Regions from separate parts of the Homo sapiens genome. Here regions 2, 3, 4 and 5 are each linked to region 1. The links come from fine-mapping of genetic effects on gene expression. A gene starts in region 1. Each other region holds a variant in brackets. All regions are shown on one strand. Distances are between the middles of the regions.

Region 1 (4,953 bases):
ATTTATTTACCACCTACTATGGACCCAGCATTTTATCAACAATTTCATTTGTATTTATTTATTTATTTATTTATTTATTTATTTAGAGATAGAGTCTTGCTCAGGTTACCCAGGCTGGAGAGCAATGGTGTGATCTTGGCTCACTGCAACCTCTGCATCCCTGGTTCAAGATAGTCTCCTGTCTCAGCCTCTCAAGTAGCTGGGATTATAGTCACCTGCCACCACGCCCGGCTAATTTTTGTATTTTTAGTAGAGACGGGTTTCACCATGTTGGCCAGGCTGGTCTTGAACTCCTGACCTCAAGTGATTCACCCACCTCAGCCTCCCAAAGTGCTTGGATTACAATCATGAGCAACCATGCCCTGCCATAGGTATTATCATTCTCCTTTCGTTGATGTGGAAACCAAGGCTCAGAGGTTATGTGACTTGTCCCGGGTACACATCTTCAGCATCCCTCTGCTTGTTTGGGGCATGTGGAGGCTAAAGTTTAGGGAGTGTCAGGCCAGAAGAGGAAGGCAGAAAGACAATGGCCTTGCCAAACCTCCTTTCTCCCTTTCACACAGGCCTGTGTTTAAGTCCTAGTTCTAACACATACTAGTTATGTGTGCCCTTGAGAAAGCTGCTGTTAATCTTGGTTTCCTTATTTATAAATTGAAGAAAATAACCCACTTCATAAAGCAATTGAGAAGATGAAATGATAGAATGTGAGCAGAGCTCCTTCACAGCACATTCAGGTACAAAATAGCTCATTTTGGTATAAACTGCTCACCCCCTAGCCCTGAATGCCCAATTTCTCATTTTCTTTATGTCTTTACTAAATTGTCTCCATCTTACTGAAACCTTCCCTGGCCACCCTATCTAAAAGGCAAACCCCATATAATCTCTTCACATCCCCTTTCTGCCTTATTTTATTACCAATTAATATATGACAAATTGTATTTATTTTGTCTTGTCCTGTCTCCACCCACAAGAAGGTAAATTTTTCTTAGGCCAGTAGGCATTGTCTGCGTTAGGAGGATGATACAGAAATCCTAACGCAGACAATGCCTACTGGCCTCAAAAAAATTTACCTTCTTGTAGGTGGAGACAGACAAGACAAAATAAGTACAATTTGTCATATATTAATTGGTAATAAAATGTATATTGGTCAAATGAATGAAAACAAACAACAAAAACAACAAAAAGAAGTTGGGAACCTAAAGACCTATGTTTGAATTTGGTTTTTTTCCTTACTATTTGACTCTGGGTCCATTACTTAAAATGTCTGGTCCTTAGCTTCCTCATTTGTAAAATAGGAAGAAAAATGGTATCTATTATTAAGACAGCTGGGATGACTAAATGACATAATTTATAAACCCTCTGGCATATAGCGAGTGCTCAATAAATGTTTGCCATTATTATTATTTGTAATAATCTGACCGATTGTTAAAACTGTCTTTCTGTGCAGCTCTGAGTTTTTAGGATATGGGAAGAGGCTAAAAGTCACCAGTGCCCTTGGCATTTTCGGCCCAGTTGTCCTCCTTGTTAACTGATTACCAGTTGAATGGGTGTGAAAGTGCTCAGTGTTCCCACCTCCAAGCTGCTCAGAGGTCAGCATTGCCATTCATTGAGAAATAACAGGCTGTGAGAGCTCAAATGACTTACTTATGGTCCCTCAACTTAAAAACCAGGGCACGCAGGAACCAAGCCCAGCCAGTCTTGGGCTTCCTAATACTGTAATTTCTCTCTACAGTGTGGGGTAGTTAAGAGCCTGTGACTTCAGACCTGTGGTCAACGGGGCCTTTCACCGGCCATCTCCCGCAGAGTACTTTTTCACAATCAGTTTTCTCGCAAGCAAAACGTGGAAAATAAGATCCACACCTCACAAGTTTGTGGCCAGGGTCACAGGTGAAAACAGCTCTTCGGAAACTCTAAAGCGCCGGATAAATAAGCGCTGCAACAGGCAACCACACGCGAACCCCTTTCAGCTGCCAGTCCCGGGACTCGCTCCTGTCTCCTCCCCTCTCCAAGACCGCGGAGTAGGAAGGAGGATTAACCCCTAGGGGAGGAGTTCCGCCCCCCAGCCCCCGCCCCGCCGCCCACGCCTCTCTCTGCACCTACACTTGCGCTCCCCAAGTCTCTCTCGTGCGCAGAGCCCAGGCTGCGCTTCCCTGGTCAGGCACGGCACGTCTGGCCGGCCGCCAGGATGCAGGCCCCGCACAAGGAGCACCTGTACAAGTTGCTGGTGATTGGCGACCTGGGCGTGGGGAAGACCAGTATCATCAAGCGCTACGTGCACCAGAACTTCTCTTCGCACTACCGGGCCACAATCGGCGTGGACTTCGCGCTCAAGGTGCTCCACTGGGACCCGGAGACTGTGGTGCGCCTGCAGCTCTGGGATATCGCAGGTGAGCGCGGGGGGAGGGGGTCAGGGGGATAGAGCGCCTCGCGGCCGGTTTCCAGTCTCGAGGCAGCGGCTTGCGGCCAAGCGTGAGATTAAAATCACTAGGTCGCGAGGCAGTTTTTCCTGGTGGGCTGGAAACTTAGTTTCAAAGAAAAGAAAAACGTCTGAAACTTCAAGTGCATTCCCTGGCGCTTTTGGGCTATTGCTTTAGCTCCTTCCCGCACAGTCCCCTGGGATCTCTCTGCCCAGAGCAGGCCTCCCCAGGGAACCAGAGGAAGATTGTCTGCAATTGCATTCTGTTCTCCACTCCAGCTCGTTTTCTGGGCGCGGGCAGTTCTGCCAATGACGCAGCCCAGTGTCACGCACGTCCTTCCGTGCAGGGGCGGACCGAGGGGAAGCCCCTAGGCTGGTTCACAGAGGAAACCGGGATAGTTCCAGGCTAGCTGGAGTTTGCCCATTCCTGTCTTCAGTGGCTCACTTTATTTCAAATTTTGTCACCTTTCTCTCTGCCCTTAAGACAAAGGAGTTTGAGGGTTTTTGTTTTGTTTTTTTTTTTTTTTTTTTTTGCTTTTTGCTTACAGTAAGCCAAGTACTTTTGTGTGTATATGTCAGGGGCAAAGTATTCTTTCTCCCTCTCTTTCTGTATTTCTATCTCTCTGGCTCTCTGTCTTCTATGAAAAGGAGGTTGTGTGTATATTTTAAGGCCATTTTTATGTAAGGGCCTATGATAGCCTTATGATTTCTTGATTTGGCCCTAAAGTTTTCATTGAGAGATCTGAAAAATGAGAGGTTGTTTGTTTTTGTTTTTTACAATATTTAAAATCAGATTTTGACTCCACAGGTTTGTACCAGAAGTTAGGCCTAGTCAAAAGTGAGGGTGCAATGTATCTACTCCAAGTGTGAATCCTTGGACAAGGCTGTTTGCAACCTGCGCATGACCAACCCCTCATTACAGATTTTAGCCCTGCCACTAACTAACCTGCTCAGTGGCTTTGGACAAGTCTCTTCAGCTCAGTTGCATCGCTGTTAAGTGGAAAGGAGTTGGGCAAGGGTCAAGGATCTTCCTGCTCAGAAGTTTTAAAGTCCTCTGGGATTCTCCATGGGAACAACTTCAAACAGTCTTATTTCATGGTCTGTGACACCAGGAACCTTTCGTTATAAGTGCTGGACCCAAACTAGCCACTTCTGTTTCAGAAAATGGATTCATTTTAGCTGATGCATTTGATTGGAAACTCTTTATCATGGCTTGAAACTAGAACAAATGTGGAAAATTTTTGAAAGGGCATTTGTGATCTGGGGACTTTCGTGCCTCTTTAATCATGAACTGCCAGGCCTTTTTCTTTTAGCATGTGAACAGATGAACAGATTCATGCATTTGGAGTCATCTTCAGCTGCTCTAGTAGCAAGGGGGTTATCAGAGAACAGAAAATGTTATCAGCCACTGTTGGATGGGGCTTTTCATCTAAAAAAATTCTCTCTGTGTACTTTCTTGCTGCATGTCATAATGTCTGAAAACCCTTCTGGCTGCTCGAAAGTCCTCAGGATTCAGATTTAGAAACGGCTTACTGTTTAAACGGGGATGTAGCTGTAATTTGGACTTCTGTGTACAATCCAGGTAACAGCATGACAGCAGAGAAGTTCTATGTCTGTAGATTTCAGTCTCCTCACATAAACAGAAGAGATGGAAGGGTACAGTGATTAATAGCCCAAATTCCAGAGTTGAACTGCCTCCATCTGGATCCTTACTTTACTCTGCATGTAGTAGGCAATCTTAGGTAAGTTCTCTAACCTCCTTGTTTTGGTTTCCTTACTTGTAAACAGGGAGAATGCTTTCTCCCAATAGATGACAGGTGAGCAACCAACAGTGCTAGCTGAAGGTGATCATGCCTGTTCTCTAGGAGATCTGCAAGGATTATTATCACACTAGCTACCATTTTTTTAAGCCTATATAAATGCTAGGCAAGAAGGATATGATATACAAGTGCTTATTAATTCCTAATAAATTGTGATCCCAATATTACATATATATTTTGTCCCCAAGTTATCACCATTTTCAGCTTTGCTCCTGACATACTCTCAGGAGCAATTTAACTCCCAAGCTCGAAAGCACTTCGTTAGCCATGTTTTGTAGACTGAAGTTGCAGTGGAGGCTGTAGTCACAGAAGTCTGTATAAATAAGAAATCTGAAGTCTTGGGAAGTTCATTCTACAGATACTGCGGTGGTGTTACATTCAACATCTCAGTAGAGGAGCTTGTTTTTCCCAGAGCTCTAATGCTCAGTGGTAACCTGTCTTTAGCAGCCTTAAGCCCAAAGGCCCTGTTAGCTGAATTATAGATTGGACAGCAGGCACAGTGAATTGGGTGAAAGCTAGGCCACTGTAGGAAATGGTTGGAACATGCACGTGCTCCATGTTTCATGGTTTAAGCTGCATAGGGAGCCATGTGGGTTATGAGTTCATGTGAAATACAACCTCAACTGCCCACCCAGACTCCAGTCAGCCAGGTGTACCTTATAGTACTTTCAAATCACAGCCTGTCTGTCCACAGATAAGAATGCATCTCTCCGTCCT
Region 2 (4,504 bases), 120 kb before region 1:
GCATCCTGTGGCAGCTGCTACTCATTTGCTTCTATGGGTATGCTAGAAGCGAGAATCCGTATACTAACCAACAATTCTCAGACCCCAATCCTAAGCCCTCAGGAGGTTGTGTCTTGTAGCCAGTATGCTCAAGGTAAGTGTTGCATTTCAGACACCATTTATGAGCTATTTACCTGTGTGCAGCTGGCTGTTGTTGGCAAAGGCAAAAGGATGATGCAGTAGAGAGAGCGCAGTGTCTATAGTCAGAAAATCTGAGTGCAAGTCTGGCCCTATCACTTATTAATGGATGATTGCTCATGGAATTTACTGTACCATCCAGCAAAATGTCAATAGTTACTATATATTGAGTGAGCTCTGCTTGTTACATATATTGCCTAACAATGCTCAAAACTCTGAGAAGTAGTAAGTATAATCCCTATTTATGGGCGGGGAACAGGAACTAAGAAATTTTTCTAATAATTTGAAGGTCTCACAGCTTTTAGCATTGGAGTTTCACTTCTAATCATCGTCTCCAAAACCCAACTTTTATTAAAACTATACTAACACTGGTTTCTCTCTGGGAGAATTTTAAAATTCTGTACTTAGGGCTGGGCACAGTGGCTTATGCCTATAACCCTATCACTTTGGGAGGCTGAGATGGGTGAATCTCTTGAGTCCTAGAGTTTGAGACCAGCCTGGGCAACACGGCGAAACCCCTTCTCTATTAAAAATACAAAAAATTAGCTGGGCGTGGTGGTGTGTGCTTGTAGTCCCAGCTATTCAGGAGGCGGAGGTGTAAGAATCACCTGAGCCCAGGAGGTCAAGGCTGCAGTGAGCCGATATCATGCCACTGCACTCCAGCCTGGGCAAACGGAGTGAGGCCCTGTTATGAAAAAAAAAAAATCTGTACTTAGGCTTTCAGATCAGGCTGTATGTGATGTATGTCGAAAACACAGCTATAATTGATTGAGGGAGAAACGTTACCATTTTAAAGTTTATGCTTTCAAGCCCAGATTTGGCCACTAGGAATTTCCCAGCTCACTAGTGAAACTGCTGATGAGTGATTATTTGCCAGTGAGCCTTTCATTCTTTCTAAAATATGTACTACTAGTTGTGACTTGTAGGCTATAGGGGCTATAATATATCAAGACAATCTTTATCCTCATGAAGCTTACAGTTAAGTAAGAGATAGAGATTAAATAATTATAACAACAGAGTGAAGAACAGTGAAGAAAAAGTACAGAGTTATAATATATATAATAGGGCCAGGACTGCATGAGGAAGGTAGGAAAGACATTTCGGCAAGAGGTTGTCAGGGAAAAGACTTGCTTGAGAAAGAGCCAAGTTGTGGGGTCTGGCTGCTTAGCAATGACCATAATACCTAACTTTTGCTATTTTTACATGAAGTAACTAATTTAACCCTATGAGGAAAGTACTACTACCATCTAGATTTTACAGGTAAGTAAGCAGAGATACAGAGAAGTTAAACTCTTCACACGGCTTTGGCTTTAAACCTATATAGGCTTCAGAGCCTCCCCACTTAACCACTTTGCCATAGCTACATCCATATTAGGTGCTAAGTAGATATCTGTTAAGTAGAAGGAGGATGAAAGGATAGTTAGCTAGTTGGAAAATGGATGGATGAATGAAGTGATGCTTAAGCTAAGAACAACTTTCAGGGGTAACATGCAAAGAATAATGGAGCAAAGAAGAAAAAATAGAAAATGGGATAATCCTTTTTCTACTAAGGGGTAACCATGTGTGTTATTCATCTTCAGGCTGTGAAGGCGGCTTCCCATACCTTATTGCAGGAAAGTACGCCCAAGATTTTGGGCTGGTGGAAGAAGCTTGCTTCCCCTACACAGGCACTGATTCTCCATGCAAAATGAAGGAAGACTGCTTTCGTTATTACTCCTCTGAGTACCACTATGTAGGAGGTTTCTATGGAGGCTGCAATGAAGCCCTGATGAAGCTTGAGTTGGTCCATCATGGGCCCATGGCAGTTGCTTTTGAAGTATATGATGACTTCCTCCA[C/T]TACAAAAAGGGGATCTACCACCACACTGGTCTAAGAGACCCTTTCAACCCCTTTGAGCTGACTAATCATGCTGTTCTGCTTGTGGGCTATGGCACTGACTCAGCCTCTGGGATGGATTACTGGATTGTTAAAAACAGCTGGGGCACCGGCTGGGGTGAGAATGGCTACTTCCGGATCCGCAGAGGAACTGATGAGTGTGCAATTGAGAGCATAGCAGTGGCAGCCACACCAATTCCTAAATTGTAGGGTATGCCTTCCAGTATTTCATAATGATCTGCATCAGTTGTAAAGGGGAATTGGTATATTCACAGACTGTAGACTTTCAGCAGCAATCTCAGAAGCTTACAAATAGATTTCCATGAAGATATTTGTCTTCAGAATTAAAACTGCCCTTAATTTTAATATACCTTTCAATCGGCCACTGGCCATTTTTTTCTAAGTATTCAATTAAGTGGGAATTTTCTGGAAGATGGTCAGCTATGAAGTAATAGAGTTTGCTTAATCATTTGTAATTCAAACATGCTATATTTTTTAAAATCAATGTGAAAACATAGACTTATTTTTAAATTGTACCAATCACAAGAAAATAATGGCAATAATTATCAAAACTTTTAAAATAGATGCTCATATTTTTAAAATAAAGTTTTAAAAATAACTGCATTATGGAGTTTATGTTTACTTCAGGGAATTTTTATCACTGACTCAGTAAGATTCACTTATGTTACCTATGTAAGCATTTATTTAAGAAGGAAAAGCATTTGAAGATATTTCAATTAAAAACAAAACTATGAACCTTTATGACAGGGAGATATACTCAGATAATGCCTAGTGAATCCTAAAATTATCCTTGGATGTTTGATGAGTCTGAGACCTCAGAGAAAAGAAATAAGAGTTTTGACAAAATCTGGATATTGGTGAATTTATTTTCTATGGTGTGTATCTTGTATTTGGGAGTATTGCTTAGTCTTCAGTAGGTGAGCAATAATAGCTTAATGAGTGAAATACTAGCAGCTTAGATTTAAATAGATTTTTGGAATCTCCCAGAGATATTTCACAGTGGATATGAAACCTCTATGCTAAGTAACATATGCCTTCTCTTAGAAATTATGTAACAGGAGAATAAGGCAGTCAGAGCTCTGAAACATAAACACGGACCACAGCCTTTTCAAGCTGGAAAGGACCATAAAGATCATGTAATTTAAACTCTTTGCACAGATAGAGACTCAACTTAGAGGGCAAGAGATGTGTCCAAGGTCACACAGCTGGCAAGTGATGGAGTCATGCTTAAAACTTAGATCTTCGAAACCGAGTTCTCTTTGAGCACCTTCGAGCACTGAATCTCAGCATTTCCCACCAGAGTATCTGCAATCACCAGGGATACTAGCTGCATGCTTGGAAATTTCACCTTAACATTCTGAGTTTCAGAGTTTTGTGCAAAACCCACGTATTTTCTGCATTAAAATTCACTATAATGATGTTTTTACCCTCCTTGAACTGCAGTAGGGCTCCAGGAGTATGCACCATTTAAAGTTTGGCTTCCTGGACCTCCTGGCATGCTGCCACATACCTTTGATCTTTTCACCACATGGTGGCACAGAAACAGCACTGGAAGGCATAGCCAGGGTCGGAATCATTGGAAGGCCTCCAAGGAGATGAGATACATTTTCTTTTTATTGTTACTGATTGAATGTAATTTCCATCCTATTTTGTGCCCAGCCTCACTGCTATGTGAACATATAAACAGACCTTTGAAATCAAGCATAAGTTTTTTTTCACTAAAATTCATGAAGATACTATCTGTCAGTTTAACAAACACAATTCTATTTAACATGTAAGCATGAATTTATTCTCTAGTTTTCCAGTTGGACAGCAGTCGGCTGACACATGAGAACAACTCATCATGATGTAGAGTGCCTGTGATTTTGCACTATTTCATGAGGGCCCTGACTGGCTCTTAAGTAAATTCATTGCTGGTGTCATTCATTAAATACTTTAGGAAATATTAAATGGCTAAATACTGGTGTGAACCTAACTGGCATGGAAGTCAGATTATACAACATGTTTGCTTGAGGACAAGCAATGATTTGAAGAGGCCCTAAGTTTTCAGAGATTATGAGGGATTGCCCAGAATAAGAACTTAAGATAGACTACATTTCAACTTGGATTTATCTACTGTCGAAGTCTGCTTTTCCTGTTTCTGTATGACAGAAAGATCATTTATATCATCCATGTTGCAGATTTCATCAAATACAGTGACTAAATGGAACATTAGGGTTCCACAAACCATGCGATTAGACTGTTAAGCTGTACAAAAAGCAGTTGGTGTCAGTATCTAGAACTTTTTATATTGATGCTAATAGAACACATACTCGGAGTCTTTTAACAAATGGAGCTCTAGAAAAAAAAATCAGATGGGAACTCTGGCTAACCTCCCCAAAGACATTCCCAGAAAATCTACAAGGATTATCTACATAAATGATGCCACAGGTC
Region 3 (4,953 bases), 91 kb before region 1:
TATTAAATGCCTTGAGGAAGTCTTCTTTGGGTTGAATCTGTTTGGTGTCCTGTAAACCTGTTGTACTTGAATACTGATAATCTTTCTCTAGGCTTGGGAATTTCTCTGTTATTCCTTGGAATAAACTTTCTACCCTGATCTCTCCTTCTCCCTCCTCTTTAAGGCTAATAACTCATAGGTTTGCCCTTTTCAGTCTACTTTCTAGAACTTATAGTGTGCTTCATTCTTTTTTATTATTTTTCTTTTTTCTCCTCTGTGTATTTTCAAATAGCCTGTCTTCAAGCTCACTGAATCTTTCTTCTGCTTGATTAATTCTGTTCTTAAAAGACTGATGCATTCTTTAGTATGTCAGTTGCATTTTTTAGCTCCAGAATTTCTCCTTGATTTTTAAAAATTATTTCAATCTCTTTGCTAAATTTATCTGATAGGATTCTGAATTCCTTCTCTGTGTTATCTTGAACTTTGTTGATCTTCCTCAAAACAGCCATTTTGAATTCTCTGTCTGAAACGTCACATGTCTCTGTTACTCTGGGAATAGTCACTGGTGTCTTATTTAGTTCATTTAGTGAGGCCATATTTTACTGGATTTTTTTTTTCTTTATTTTTTTGAGATGGAGTCTCGCTCTGTTGCCCAGGCTGGAGCGCAGTGGTGCAATCTTGGCTCACTGCAGCCTCTGCCTCCCGGGTTCAAGCAATTCTCTTGCCCTAGCCTCCTGAGTAGCTGGGATTACAGGCATGAGCCACCGCACGTGGCCAGAGATAGGTACTTATTGTAGTCTTTTCAGTCTGGGCTTCTTTGTACCCAACCTTATTGGGAAGGCTTTACAAGTACTCAAAGATAGTTGAATGTTATGATCTACATCTTTGGTCATTGCAGCTGTATCTGTACCTGAAGATAAGGCTGTAGTATTAGGGAGTACCTGAAGCCCAATAATACTGTGACTCCTGTGTGTTCATAGACATATTAACTTGGATCTTGGGTAAAATCCAGAGGAATTCCCTAGACTACCAGGCAGAGACTCTTGTTCTTTTCCCTTAGTTTCCCCCAAACAAAGAGTCTCTGTACTGAGCTACCTGGAGCTTGAGGAGGGGTGACACAAGCACCCCTGTGTCCACCACCACTGGAATTGCACTAGGTAAGACCCAAAGCCAGCACAGCGCTGGGTGTCTTAACTTCCTGGCCACTGCCAATGTTCACTCAAGGCCCAAGCGCTCTTCAATCAACTGGTGGCAAATCCAGCGAGACTTGTGGCATTTCCCTTAGCATAGTGAGATCCCCCTGTCCACCAGGGCCTGGATTCAAGAATCTTAGGAATATAGTTGGTGCTCTATTGTGCTGTGGCTAAGCTGACAGCCAAGCCACAAGACAAAGTCCTTCCACTCTTTTCTTTCACTTCCTCATGCAGAAAGAGTTTCTCCCCATGGCCACCACTGCCCCAGGCCTGCAGCAGGTGCTGCCTGGGTACTGCCAGTGTTGACTCAAGACCCAAGGCCTCTTCCATCAGATTGTGAATGCTTCCAGGCCTAAGTCCCTCTCTACAGAACAGTTGTCTTTCTTTTGGCCCAGAATGGGTCCAGAAACACTGTCCAGGAGCCAAGTCCTGGAATTGGTGACCCCAGGAAGCCACTTGATACTCTACCCGACTGTAGCTGAGGTGGTATCCAAGCTTAAGAACAAAGTCCCCTTTACTCTTTCCTCTCCTTTCCTCAAGCAGAAGGAAAGGATTCTCTCCTCATGGCCACCACAGCTGGGAATGTACTGGGTCACACCTAAAGTCAGCACAGCCCCAGGTCTCATCCAAGGCCTGCAGTGAGTATATCTGGCTAATATTGATGTTTATTCAAGGACAAAAGGCTCTTTTCATTAGCAGTTAATGAATTCTGCCTGGGTCCTTCTCTTCATGGAAGGTCCCAGAAGGACTGGGTCCTTCTCTTCATGGAAGCAGGTGCCCTTTTGACCAAGGGTATGTCTAGAAATACTGTCTGGGAGCTAGGGTCTGAAATGGGAGCCTCATAACTCTACCTCATGCCTTATTCTACTCTGGCTGAGTTGGTATCCAATTTACAAGACAAAGTCCTCTTCACTCTCTCCTCTCCTCTCCTCTCAAGGGTAAGGAAGGAGTCTCCCAGAGCTGTGAGCTGTTCTGTCTGTGGTTGGGGTAGAGGAAATGCAAGTACTCCCTTGGCTGCTCTAACTGGTGTCTTGCTAGGTTACATACACACCAAGTTCACTCACTCTGAGTACAGCATAGCAAAAAGATTTGTCCAGGATTTGAAGCCCTTGTGGTCTAGCTTGCCTTTCAAGTTTACTTAGAACCCCAGAGCACTTTGGCTTTTGGTGTAGGTCTTGCTGAAACTCAGGTTTCCACTGCTGTGTTGGATAATTCCACTCTGGCTAATGCTGGTCTAAATGCTCTCTCTATGGATGCTGGCTGAATGTTTCTTTCTGCTGCAACAGGGCAACACTGAGTTCCAGTGCTAAGTCCCACAATCATTCTGCTCTCCCTACTCTGAGCACACAGATTCTCTCTTCATGCCACACAGCTGCTGCCAGTGTATGAAGGAGGAGTGGTGTCAGCAATTCAAGATTGCCTTTCCCACCTTCTTCAGTGCCTCTTTCCTTGATATGATGTTAAAACTAGGTACTGTGATTGCTTATCTGATTTTTGGTTCTTATGATGGTGATTTCTTTTATGGATAGTTGTTCAATGTGGTGTTCCTGCAGGGAGGATGAACGCTAGAGGGTTCT[A/G]TTTGGCCATCTTCCTTCACCTCATCACCCTGATTATCCAACTTTGTTCTTTTAAAAAATTGTTTTGGTTCTTGTAACATGAATTTACACTTTAGAAACAATGAGATAATATATACAGAAAATTCTTCTGGGATTTGGATTGGAAAGGCATTAAATTTATCTATTTGTTTGAAAAAATTACAATTTTGCACATAGACACATTTTAGTCATTAACATGGTTTATCTCTTCACTTATCTAGATGTTCTTTAATTTCTCTCTGCAATATTTTGTAACTTTTATTGTACATATTTTGCCCAGTTTTGTCAGATTTATTATGAAGTATTTAATGTTATTTTATACAATTGTATGTGATCTTTTAAATTTCAGTTTCCAATCATTTATAGCTAGTAGATGAGAATATAATTTATATACTTACCTTGAATCCTGCAACCTTGGTAAAATCACTTTTTCTAGTAGCTTTTTTTGTAGATTTCATAGGTTTTGTACATGTTGCACAGAAGACAGTTTTACTTCTTGTTTTCCAGTTTTGATGCCTCTTATTTCTTTTTCTTGCACAGTGCCCTGCCTAGAAGCTCCTGTACAACATTGTGTAGAACTGATAAGACCCAAGATTCTTGCTCTTCTTCCTTATTTTGGTGAAAAGCATCCAGTCTTTCATTATTAACTATTAAGTTAGTTGTAACTTTTTGATAGATAAACTGTCATGTTAGAGTAAAAATGTTAGCACTGAAATTATTTAAATACAGAACTAAAGTTAAACACAGAAGCAGTACTGTTACAGCACATTTTTAAATTTTATTGATATAATTTGGAAATTTGTCCCCACCCAAATCTCATGTTGAAATGTAATCTCAGGGGTGGCCAACATGGCTGACTAGAAGCAGCTAGTGTGTGTGGTGCTCATGGAGAGGAATGGAAGGGGTGAGTAAACATAGCATGTTCACCTGAAACATACAGGTACATACCTTGAGACCAAATGAGGAAACAGTTTGGTCCATGGAGAGTGAAGAAAAGCAAGGCAGGATAATGGCCCATCCAGGAACGACACAGAGCCAAGGGAACCTCCTGCACCCAGGGAAGTGGTGAGTGAATGTGCGATCCTGGGAATTTATGCTTCCCTTATGGATCATTACAACCCTTGGGTCAGGAAATCCACTTGTGAACTCACTCAGCCAGGATCTTCTGTCTGTCACATAGAGCTACGTGGAATGTCAGCAGAGAAGCTGCTCAGGAACACACAAATATCCGGGAGCCTTAGATACCTGGGCTTTCCAGGCTTTCCAGCAAAAGTAGCTGCAACTCTGGCAAAACAGGAGGTTATACCCCCTTACCTATCCCTTGGAGAGGCGCTGAATTCAAGGGGCTGAGCCAAAATAGTCTGCAGGCTCCACTCCATGGCACCTCACAGGGTAAGACTCACTGGCTTAGAATTTCTGTCAGCCACCAGTAGTAGCGTCGAACCTCCCTGATATGGAGCTCCCAGGGAGAGGGGCTAGCTGCTATCTTTGCCGTTTTGTCAATTTAGCCATTCCAGCCTTTGGGCTTTGGAGAATCCAAGCCAACTGTGGGTGGAAGCAATCCCCCAGCACAGCACAGCTGCTCTACAAAAAGGGGCTAGAATGCTTTTATTTATGTATTTATTTATTTTTTTGAGACGGACTCTGGCTCTGTCACCCAGACTGGAGTGCAGTGGCACCATCTTGGCTCACTGCAAGCTCTGCCTCACGGGTTCACGCCATTCTCCTGCCTCAGCCTCCGGAGTAGCTGGGACTTAAGGCACCTGCCACCACGCCTGGCTAATTTTTTTCTATTTTTAGCAGAGACGGGGTTTCACTGTGTTAGCCAGGATGGTCTCCATCTCCTGACCTCGTGATCCACCCACTTCGGCCTCCCAAAGTGCTGGGATTAAAGGCTTGAGTAGAATGCTTTTTTAAGTGGTTCACCTATCCCATTGTTTCTCATGTGTCAGGACCTTCCAGTTGGAATCTCCAGCCACCCCCAGTAGCTGACAGAGATTTAAAATCTCCCTGAAATGGATCTCCCAGAGGTAGAGCCAGGCCGCCATCTTTGCTGTTTGGGCAACTTAGTTATTTCCAGTCTTTGGGCTTTGGAAAGTACAAGCCAACTGGAGGTGGAAGCAGTCACCCAGCAGAGCGTAGCTGCTCTACAAAAACCTGGTCAGAGTGCTTTTAAAAGCAGGTCC
Region 4 (4,953 bases), 23 kb before region 1:
AGGCTAATCTCTTTCTTCCAATGATTTGTCAGCAAAGCAACAAATAGTAGCAACACATATTCACATTGTGTATCTTTTCAATCACTTTTCCTAATGTTACAGGCTCATAGTCTACCTTCTACATTACTGAAGCATTTGCTTTATTAAATTATTTTTCTATTGTATAACATAGATCACTATTTTTTTCAGCATATTCTATTATTAATCCAACTATAACTAAACCAGTCCTATAAAGTTTAGGTTGTTCTTGAGGCATCATTCCACTTCTGGTATCAATATTTTAATGTAAGTCAGTAAAGTAATGTAATGGCTCAAACAGCATAACAATTTATTTCCCTTTTACATAAAGTTTAAATAGGTATTCATCATTGGCAGTGGCTTTCCTGCAACTGGCTTGAACCTGGGCTTGCCACGTACAGTTTCTAGGATTGTGGTGCCTTTCTTCATCAGTTTGCGGAAGGAGATAGCATCAAGAAACACACATAGGCTAGACGTGGAAGTAAACAAAATTTTGCCCACTGTCTCCTGGCCAGACTTTAGAGACATGCACAAATTTACCTATAAGGAAGGCTAGGAAATACATACAATCCAGTGGTGTCATCAGGAGAAAGAGCTAAAAATTTTAGTGTATAGCTATGCATTTTATACACAGAAGCCAATACTATGGAAGATAGAATAGGAAGACAGAAAAAACTGGATCTTTCTTGACTTCTTTGAGCTACTGGATCATGTTTCACCATATTGCTAGACTGAATATTTGCTAACATTCCTTTTATTGTTGAAGGTGATTTTAGTTGGAACTCTGCTACTTGCTATGCCAAATCTTATGATTAATGCAATTGCCAAATAAATTTCCCATTAATATCAACTAACAAACCAAACACCACCTGCTGCCTCCCTGTTATCTATTTGTATGATGCACAGTATGAATGTTTGATGGTTCAGTTGCCAATGAGTACCTGATAAAATATCAGGTCTGCATCCTGAGAGATTCAGCTTGGTCCAAGAGATGAGGCTTCAAAATACATGAGACAAATGTTTGGGAAGTCTAACTCCAAGTCTGAAAGAGACCTTGGAATCCATGTTTATTTGAGAGTAAATCTTGTAGTAGGAATGTGGTCTGTGATAATCCACTAAGGCCTCAGTATGTACTGCCACACTTTGAACTTTCCTAGAGCAGAAGAATTTCCACAAATTAGTCCCTGGTTTAAACTTGACTCTTGTTTTGTTTGTTCTTTCCATGTTAGAGATCATCTGAGCCTAAATCACACTTCTTGATGATAACAAGTCTGAACTCAGACCTTCAACTAAATTCAAAATGTTCTAAGCACTAACCATTGAACTAAATTCAAACCAGTCCTGGGTCAAAATAGAGCAAAATATAGTTCCCACCTTCTGATGTCTTCCTTATTTTATTTCCTTTCTAAGAACAAAAGGAAGCACATTTTACCATTTCTTTCTTCTGTTTTTGGGAATCATTCATTCATTCATTCCTTTAGTTAACAAATGTTTATTAGAAGTCTACCATGTAGCAGGCAATCTGAAATGAACTAGGAAAAAGCTAGATTAAGTTACTTCAATAAATCACAGGGAAAAGCTCATAGAACCTTTAGGCAATGTGTAGAATTATTGTATGATATCATGGGAAAAGCACAGGCTTTGAAGCCAGATACTACTGAGTTTAAACCTCAGTTCAATTTCTTACAGGTGATGTTAATTATGAAATTAAGCAATCCTTTTCTGATCTTCAATTTCATTTGTAAAATGGAGCTAATACTTATATTTCAGGATCAGGCTGATAGTTAAATGCTAGTAAAAATGCTTGACACAAAGTAGGAGTATAATGAATATTCCTTCCTTTCCTGTTTCCTTTCTTTCTTCCTTCTGTCTCACCTTCCCTCTCCTTTCTTGTGCCTTCTCTTCTTCCTTTCCTCTTTTCTGTTTTTCTTCTTTCTTTTCCAACATCCTAATTTTCTTTTTTCAGGTAAACATGCTAATTGACTAAATTCCCATCCTCCAAAATTGCATTAAAATCTCAACAGTACTCCTTAGCACAAATGCCCTAGATTATATGCCTTTTGAATACACTATTGATTGAACAATTTAATCACTTTGAATAATATAATCAGGAATATAAATAAAAATACATTTTATGAGATACGTACTTTCTTCTCTTCCTAAACTACTACACGGATAGTATCTTCTGATTCTAAAAGTAGCACATCAATGCACAATTTTGAATATGTCCATTGCCACTTTCCAGATATATCTTACAGGTATAACTCATGAAGAATATTTAGACATTCAAACTAATAAGCACAAAGGGTTGAACACTAAAAAGATGGTAGGAGAAAATATTTTAAACAAGATGCAGAAGAACATGAGAATTCAGTAAAGTCAGTAAACTTGTTTATTTATCTAATTGACCATTCTTGATTTGAAATACTACTGGTTTGATTTATTTCATTTTAGTAAGAACTATAGCAGATAAACTGGAAATAAATGGGTTTTTCTTGACTCAATTTGCTTTTATTCATCTTGAAATGCAGTATTCATTTTAGTGCCTTAAAAATTTAGTCTAGCCAGCAAAACCCTCCCCACAAACACCCTACCCCCACTGCCATCACCAACAGCGTGAGGATATGCAGGAACATTGCTACCCTGCTCCTGACAGTGCCCTGTATGTGTACCCTGCTGCATTGCCATGGCTATTGGCACACAAGATAAAGCATAGATCATGCTGCCACCAC[G/T]CTGATGAAGTGCTTTGGCCAGCACCATACATCAGCGTGTTATGGCCAGCAGGCCAAAATACCTCAGTTTCTGTAGCGCAGCAGTTTCCTAACATCAAGGGGCCAGAGAACAAAACTATCATCCCAGTACTACCACCCAGAGTTAGAGCACATAGCTCAGGAATGCCAAGCCGAGACTTGGCTCCCTAAAATCTTCCAGAAATGAAGCTAGTCAACTGAACCAATCTTATACTGCAATTCAATCTCCAAGGTCATCTAAGAAGACAAAAGCAAACAACCTCATCCAAGGGTCAGCAACTTCAATAACTGAAGGAACATTAGCCCACACAGATGAGAAGGAACCAGTTCAAGAACTTTGGCAACTCAAAAAGCCATCATGTCTTTTTACCTCCAAATGACTGTACTAGTCCCCAGCAATGTTTCTTAAACAGGCTGAAATGTCTGAAATGACAGACAAGGAATTCAAAATATGGGTAGGAACAAAGATCATTGAGATTCAGGGGGAAGTCAAAACCTAATCCAAGGAATCTAAGGAATGTAATAAAATGATATAGAAGCTGGATCATGAAATGGCCATTTTAACAAAGAATCAAATTGATCCAGCAGATTTGAAAAACTGACTTCAAGAATTTCATAATTCAAGTATAAACAGCAGAATAGACCAAGCTGAGGAAAGACTCTCAGATCTCAAAGACCAGTCCTCCAAATTAACTCATACTGACAAATACAAAGAAAAAAGAATAAAAAATAATGATCAAAACCTCTGAGAGATATGGGATTATGTAAAGGGGACACATCTATGACTCACTGATGTCCCTGGAAGAGAAAGAGAGAGAGAGCAAGCAACAGAAAAATCATATTAGAGGATATCGACCATAAAAATTTCCCCAATCCTCACTAGAGAGGCCATCATTCAAATTCAGGAAATGCAGAGAACCCCTACAAGGTACTATACCAGATGAACATCCCCAAGACAAATAGTGGTCAGATTCTCCAAAATCAAAATGCAAAAAAAAATTAAAGGCAGCTAGTGAGAAGAGGTAGGTCACCTACAAAGGGAATCCCCTCAGGCTAACAATGGACCCCTCAGCAAACACCCTACAGTCTAGAAGAGATTGGAAGCCTATACTAAGAATTTTTAAGGAAAAAAATTTTCAAACAAAAAACATAAGCAAAGCAGAAATAAGAACCTTTACAGATAAGCAAATGCTAAGAAAATTTGTTGCCACCTGACCTGCCTTACAAGAGATCCTTAAGGGCCTGCTAAACATGGAAAGGAAAGACCATTACTAGTCACCACAAAAGTATACTTAAGTACATAGATCTTTGATGCTATAAAGCAACTACATAATCAAGTCTGCATAATAATCAACTAACAACACAACAACAGGATCAAATCTGTACATATCAATACTAACTTTGAATGTAAATGGGCTAAATGCCCCAATTGTAAGACACATAGTGGAAAGCTGGATAAATATGTAAAACCCAACTGTTTGCTGTCTTCAAGAGACCCATCTCACATGCAATGATACCCATAGCCTCAAATTAATGGGATGGAGGAAAAATCTACCAAGCAAATGGAAAGCAGAAAAAAGCAGGTGTTGCTCTTCCATTTCAGACAAAACAGAACACAAACCAACAATCATTAAAAAAGACAAAGAAAGGCATTACCTAATGGTATAAGGTTCAATTCAACAAGAAAACCTAATTTTTCTAAATGCATGCACCCAATACAGGAGCACCCAGATTCATAAAACAAGTTGTTAGATACCTATGAAGAGACATAACCACAAAATAATAGTGGTAGACTTCAACAGCCCACTGACAGTATTAGACAGTTCATTGAGGCAGAAAACAAAGATGTTCAGGACCTGACCTCAATATTTGACTAAATGGACCTAACAAACCTCTCCACCCAAAAGCAATAGAATATATATTCTTCTCATCAGCACATGGCACATACTGTAATATTGACCACACAATCAGCCATAAAGCAATTCTCAGCAAATAGAAAAAATACCTCAAAATCATATTAATCACACTCTCAGACCACAGTGCAATAAAAATAGAAATCAGTACTAAGAAGATGGCTCAAAACCATACAATTACATAGAAATTAACCTGCTCTTGAATGACTTTTGGGTAAACAATAATATTAAGGCAGAAACCAAGAAATTCTTTGAAACTAATGAGGACAAAG
Region 5 (4,953 bases), 150 kb before region 1:
TAAAATAGTTTCTTCTAATTGTGTGAAGAATGTTAATGGTAGTTTAATGGGAATAGCATTGAATCTGTGAATTGCTTTGGGCAGTATGGCCATTTTCATGATATTGATTCTTCCTATCCATGAGCATGTAACGTTTTTCCCTTCGTTTGTGTCCTCTCTCATTTCCTTGAGTAGTGGTTTGTAGTTCTCCTTGAAGAGATCCTTCACTTCTTCTGTATTCCTAGATATTTTATTCTCTCTGTAGCTATTGGGAATGGGAGTTCATTCATGATTTTGCTCTCTGCTTGCCTTTTGTTGGTGTATAGGGATCCTGGTGACTTCTGCACATTGATTTTGTATCCTGAGACTTTACCGAAGTTGCTTATCAGCTTAAGAAGCTTTTGGGCTGAGATGATGGGGTTTTCTAGATATAGGATCATGTTATCTTCAAACAAAGACAATTTGACTTCCTCTCTTCCTATTTGAGTACGCTTTATTTCTTTCTCTTGCCTGATTGCCCTGGCCAGAACTCCCAATACTATATTGAATAAGAATGGTGAGAGAGGGCATCCTTGTCTTGTGCCAGTTTTCACGGGGAATGCTTCCAGCTTTTGCCCATTCAGTATGATATTATCTGTGGGTTTCTCATAAAAAGCTCTTATTATTTGAGATACGTTCCTTCAATACCTAGTTTATTGAGAGTTTTTAACATGAAGCGATGTTGAATTGTATCGAAGGCCTTTTCTGTGTCTATTGAGATAATCATGTGGTTTTTGTCTTTAGTTCTGTTTATGTGATGAATGACGTTTATTGATTTGCATATGTTGAACCGGCCTTGCATCCTGGGGATGAAGCCAACTTGACTGTGGTAGATAAGCTTTTGGATGTGCTGCTGGATTTGGTTTATCAGTATTTCATTGAGATTTTTTGCGTCGAAGTTCATCAGGGATATTGGACTGAAGTTTTCTTTTTGTTGTCGTATCTCTGCCAGGTTTTGGTATCAGGATGATGCTGGCCTCATAAAATGAGTTAGGGAGGAGTCCCTCCTTTTCAATTGTTTGGAATAGTTTCAGAAGAAAGGGTATCAGCTCCTCTTTGTACCTCTGGTAGAATTCAACTGTAAATCCATCTGGTCCTGGACTTTTTTTCATTAGTAGGCTATTTATTACTGCCTCACTTTCATAACTTGTTATTGATCTATTCAGGGATCCAACTTCTTCCTGATTCAGTCTTGGGAGTGTGTATGCATCCAGGAATTTATCCATTTCTTCTAGATTTTCTAGTTTCTTTGCATAGAGGTGTTTGTAGTATTTGCTGTTGGTTGTTTGTACTTCTGTGAGATCAGTGGTGGTATCCTGTTTATCATTTTTTATTGTGTCTGTTTGATTCTTCTCTTATTTTTGACAAAGCTGACAAAAAGAAGCAATAGGGAAAGGACTCTCTATTCAATTAATCCTACTGTATATCTGGCTAGCCATATGCAGAAAATTGAAACTGTTCCTGTTTCTTAATCCATATACGAAAATCAACTTACGATGGATTAAAGACTTAAATGTAAAACCCAAAATTATAAAACCCTGGAATAGAATATAGGCAATATCATTCTGGACATAGGAATGGGCAAAGATTTTATGAGAAAGACACCAAAAGCAATTACAACAAAAGCAAAAATTGGCAAATGAGATCTAATTAAACTAAAGAGCTCTGCACAGCAAAAGAAACTACTGTCAGAGTGAACAGGCAACCAACAGAATGGGAGAAAATTTTTTCAATCTATCCATATGACAAAGGTCTAACATCCAGAATCTACAAGGAACTTAACAAATTTACAAGAAAAAAGGAGCCCCATTAAAAAGTTGGCAAAGAACATGAACAGACACTTCCCAGAAGATATTCATGTGGCCAATAAACATGAAGAAAAGCTCAACATCACTGACCATTAGAGACGTGCATATCAAAATCACAATGAGATACCATCTCATGTCACAATGGTGATTATTAAAAAGTCAAACAACATGCTAGTGAGGTTGTAGAGAAATAAGAACGCTTTTACACTGTTGGTGGGAATGTCAACTAATTCAACCACTGTGGAAGACAGTGTGGTGATTCCTCAAGGATTTAGAACCAGAAATATCATTACTGCATATAGACCCAAAGGAATAGAAATCATTCTATTACAAAGATACATGCACATGTATGTTTATTACAGCACTATTCACAATAGCAAAGACATGGAATCAACCCAAATGCTCATCAGTGATAGACTGGAAAAAGAGAATGTGGAACATAAACACCATGGAATACTATGCAGCAATAAAAAGGAATGAGATCCTGTCCTTTTCAGGGACATGGATGGAGTTGGAAGCTGTTATCCTCAGCAAACTAATGCAGGAACAGAAAACCAACCACCACATGTTCTCACTTATAAGTGGGAGCTGAACAATAGAACACATGGGCACAGGGAGGGGAATAACACACACTGGGGCCAGTCAGGGGGTGGGGGGTCAAGCTGAGGGAGAGCATTAGAAAAAATAGCTAATGCATTCTGGGCTTAACCCATTTATGCCTAGTGTTCCATTTCTGGAATGCTAAGCATGTGGAAGTTCTTTATATCCTGCTCAAGGTCATTGCCAAGGTCTGATTTTTCACATTCAACAAATTGCAACCTCTGGCATAAATGGGTTAATACCTAGGTGATGAGTTGATAGGTGCAGGAAACCACCATGGCACATGTTTATCTATGTAAGAAACCTGCACATC[C/G]TACACATGTACCCTGGAACTTAAAAAATTTAAAATATATATGTATATATATTTAATATGGAATTTTAAAAATTACTAATGAGTTCTTTTATCTGAGTAATTTTGCATCAACATGCTTTTATTATGGAAGAGAAGATTCAGTGAGTACAAAATTGCAGATACATGTGTCAGAAGATCCCTGAATATAATAAGGCTTAGTATTCTGTGTCATAATTGCCTGTTTGTATTCCTCTCTGGTCTTTAAACTTCATTAGGGCAAGGATCAACTCCATCTTACTAACCATTTGATTCCCTATGTATTACACGATATATGACCAATAATAAGCCTTCAATAAATACTTGTAAAATAAAGAATGTTATGTAATATATCATGTGGTATTGTTTTATTGATGTGTTCTTTGAAGTGTTACCTTTGTGTCCTTAGAGGCTATGGTGGGCCCTCAGGCCATATATGTTGGATGATTTAGTGGAAAAGAGATTAGACTTTTATATTTTATTCTATTTATTTATTTATGTTTTAATCTTGTGTAAGCCTATAGAGGCCAAGATAGGGCTCAGAGTTAAAAACAGTGATGTTCTAACTTTCAAAACTACTAAAAACAAAATTAGCTATCAAGGGAAATCCTGAGTGTTCTGACTGCAGGGGTTCCCCAAAGCCTGGAGGACCGAAGCTTTGAAATGCTGCATGGTGTGCCTCACCTCTGTTGAGTATAGTGAGGAACATGAGCTGAGGAGTGGATTAGATGAACTCTTAAGATTTTTTTCCAACTTTACGGTTTGAGTTTATGAGTAAGTAAGTGAGGAATGAGCCCAGGGACTTTGACTACTTTGCTGTGCAGTAAATTGCTGTTTTCTTAGCTAATTCTGGAGTGTGTATTTTGGTTTTAATGTAATGTCCTTTCAGCACTGGAAATAAACAGATTTATGACCCTCCATTTTCACATGTAAACTTCCAGTTCCTTCAGTAAAATGCTGGAAGTTGCTTGGCTGTAACCACTGTAACTATTTCCTGGCAGTTTTGCATTTTATTACAATTCGACTTTTTAAATGCATGGTTCAGTCCAGTTAATAGGCAGAAAACTATAGCTATTCCTTGGAACTGACATAGGGAAGTTGGTTTCTTTCTGAGGAAAGATGTGACACTCTGATGGATTTGGCAAAATACCAATTCAGTAAAATTTGCCTGGTTCCTTTCTGACAGCAAATGGAGGTAATTGTACGTATATAGATTTCTACAGTAAACAAAGGGCAAAAATGGAAACATTTTTTGTTTTTTAATGTTGCTGGAATATAATATTTCCATATTTGGTTAATCATCAAATCATTCAACTCCATGCAAAGTACTCTTTTCAAAATTACAAATCATCTTGATGGATTAGACTTGGATGTCTAAATTTTTTATTATGTATTCTAAATTATCTATAGGTACATTTTGAAAATTATATATACATGTATCACTGTACTACATTTGTTATAAAATGTGAAATATTAAGCGATTAAATACTTTATTAATGTCATAAAATTGTGCCCTACCCAAAATATATTTTAAGAAGATATCATTTGAAAATAATGTAAAATATTCTTCATTATTATGATTTTGTTGCCAAAAGTAATGTTAGAGTCCCTGTTACTGATAATTTTCATGACTGTAAATTTTCAACATTTGGAAACAAAATTTTCTGATGTGTTTTAAAATCTTAAAGAATTTCAGTAGATTTTGACACATTTTTGTTAAAAGTATGAAAGTGTCACAGCTTTAGAAGGATTTAGAATAATTATCAATTGGTATTAGGGATGACAATTTTAATAGACAAATTTTAACTGAAACATTTGCTTTATTGATGTCTAGGACTAAAAAAAATATTATAGTGATGGAACCATTTCAAAACATCTGTTTTTAAAAACTTCTGTCAACATGTTTGACAGAAGTCAGAATAGGGTAATTATAAAAAAACTGCCATTTTCTTATGTTTGCATCATTAGTATTTGCAAATCCTTGTTTCTTTGCAAGTATATTTTAAACTACTTGTTCATTTTATGAGTGTTAGCCTGATTAATTCAGATAAGATGCTCAAGTCAGTTTAAGCAGGCAGATGTGAAAAAGGGAATATGCTGTGCCTTAACTATCTTATAGGGACTTACTAGCACACTGTACATAACAGATGAACATCTGATATTAGATCTGATGGGCACACCAATGTTGTTTCATATATT

Direction of the effects. Positions count from the first base shown, and alleles are read on the strand shown. Sizes are in standard deviations (SD) of each study's normalised expression. Not every link is listed here.
For the expression in unexposed skin of the gene that starts at base 2,127 in region 1, allele T in region 4 goes with a higher level than allele G (small effect, 0.26 SD a copy in GTEx).

The links. PIP is the estimated chance that this variant, and not a neighbour inherited with it, causes the effect.
Region 2: its variant is fine-mapped to the expression of RAB38 in whole blood (TOPMed, PIP above 0.99).
Region 3: its variant is fine-mapped to the expression of RAB38 in subcutaneous fat (GTEx, PIP 0.95).
Region 4: its variant is fine-mapped to the expression of RAB38 in unexposed skin (GTEx, PIP above 0.99).
Region 5: its variant is fine-mapped to the expression of RAB38 in whole blood (INTERVAL, PIP 0.91).

The regions. Positions count from the first base shown.
Region 1 is chr11:88,172,617-88,177,569 of GRCh38, reverse strand. RAB38 (RAB38, member RAS oncogene family) reads left to right here and starts at 2,127. Exons shown (of 3, transcript NM_022337.3): 1 at 2,127-2,387. The coding sequence starts at 2,186. MIR3166 (microRNA 3166) reads right to left here and starts at 1,068; the gene lies at 977-1,068.
Region 2 is chr11:88,291,762-88,296,265 of GRCh38, reverse strand. It overlaps CTSC (cathepsin C), which reads left to right. Exons shown (of 7, transcript NM_001814.6): 6 at 2-133; 7 at 1,758-2,674. The coding sequence ends at 2,260. Among named protein-coding and RNA genes, the nearest start is that of CTSC, 44 kb to the left of the region's middle. The variant C/T (reference allele first, on the strand shown) is at 2,014.
Region 3 is chr11:88,263,581-88,268,533 of GRCh38, reverse strand. No RefSeq gene overlaps it. Among named protein-coding and RNA genes, the nearest start is that of CTSC, 72 kb to the left of the region's middle. RefSeq lists an enhancer at 1,512-1,581. The variant A/G (reference allele first, on the strand shown) is at 2,750.
Region 4 is chr11:88,195,889-88,200,841 of GRCh38, reverse strand. No RefSeq gene overlaps it. Among named protein-coding and RNA genes, the nearest start is that of MIR3166, 22 kb to the right of the region's middle. The variant G/T (reference allele first, on the strand shown) is at 2,751.
Region 5 is chr11:88,318,965-88,323,917 of GRCh38, reverse strand. All of the region lies in intron 2 of CTSC (cathepsin C), which reads left to right. Among named protein-coding and RNA genes, the nearest start is that of CTSC, 16 kb to the left of the region's middle. The variant C/G (reference allele first, on the strand shown) is at 2,740.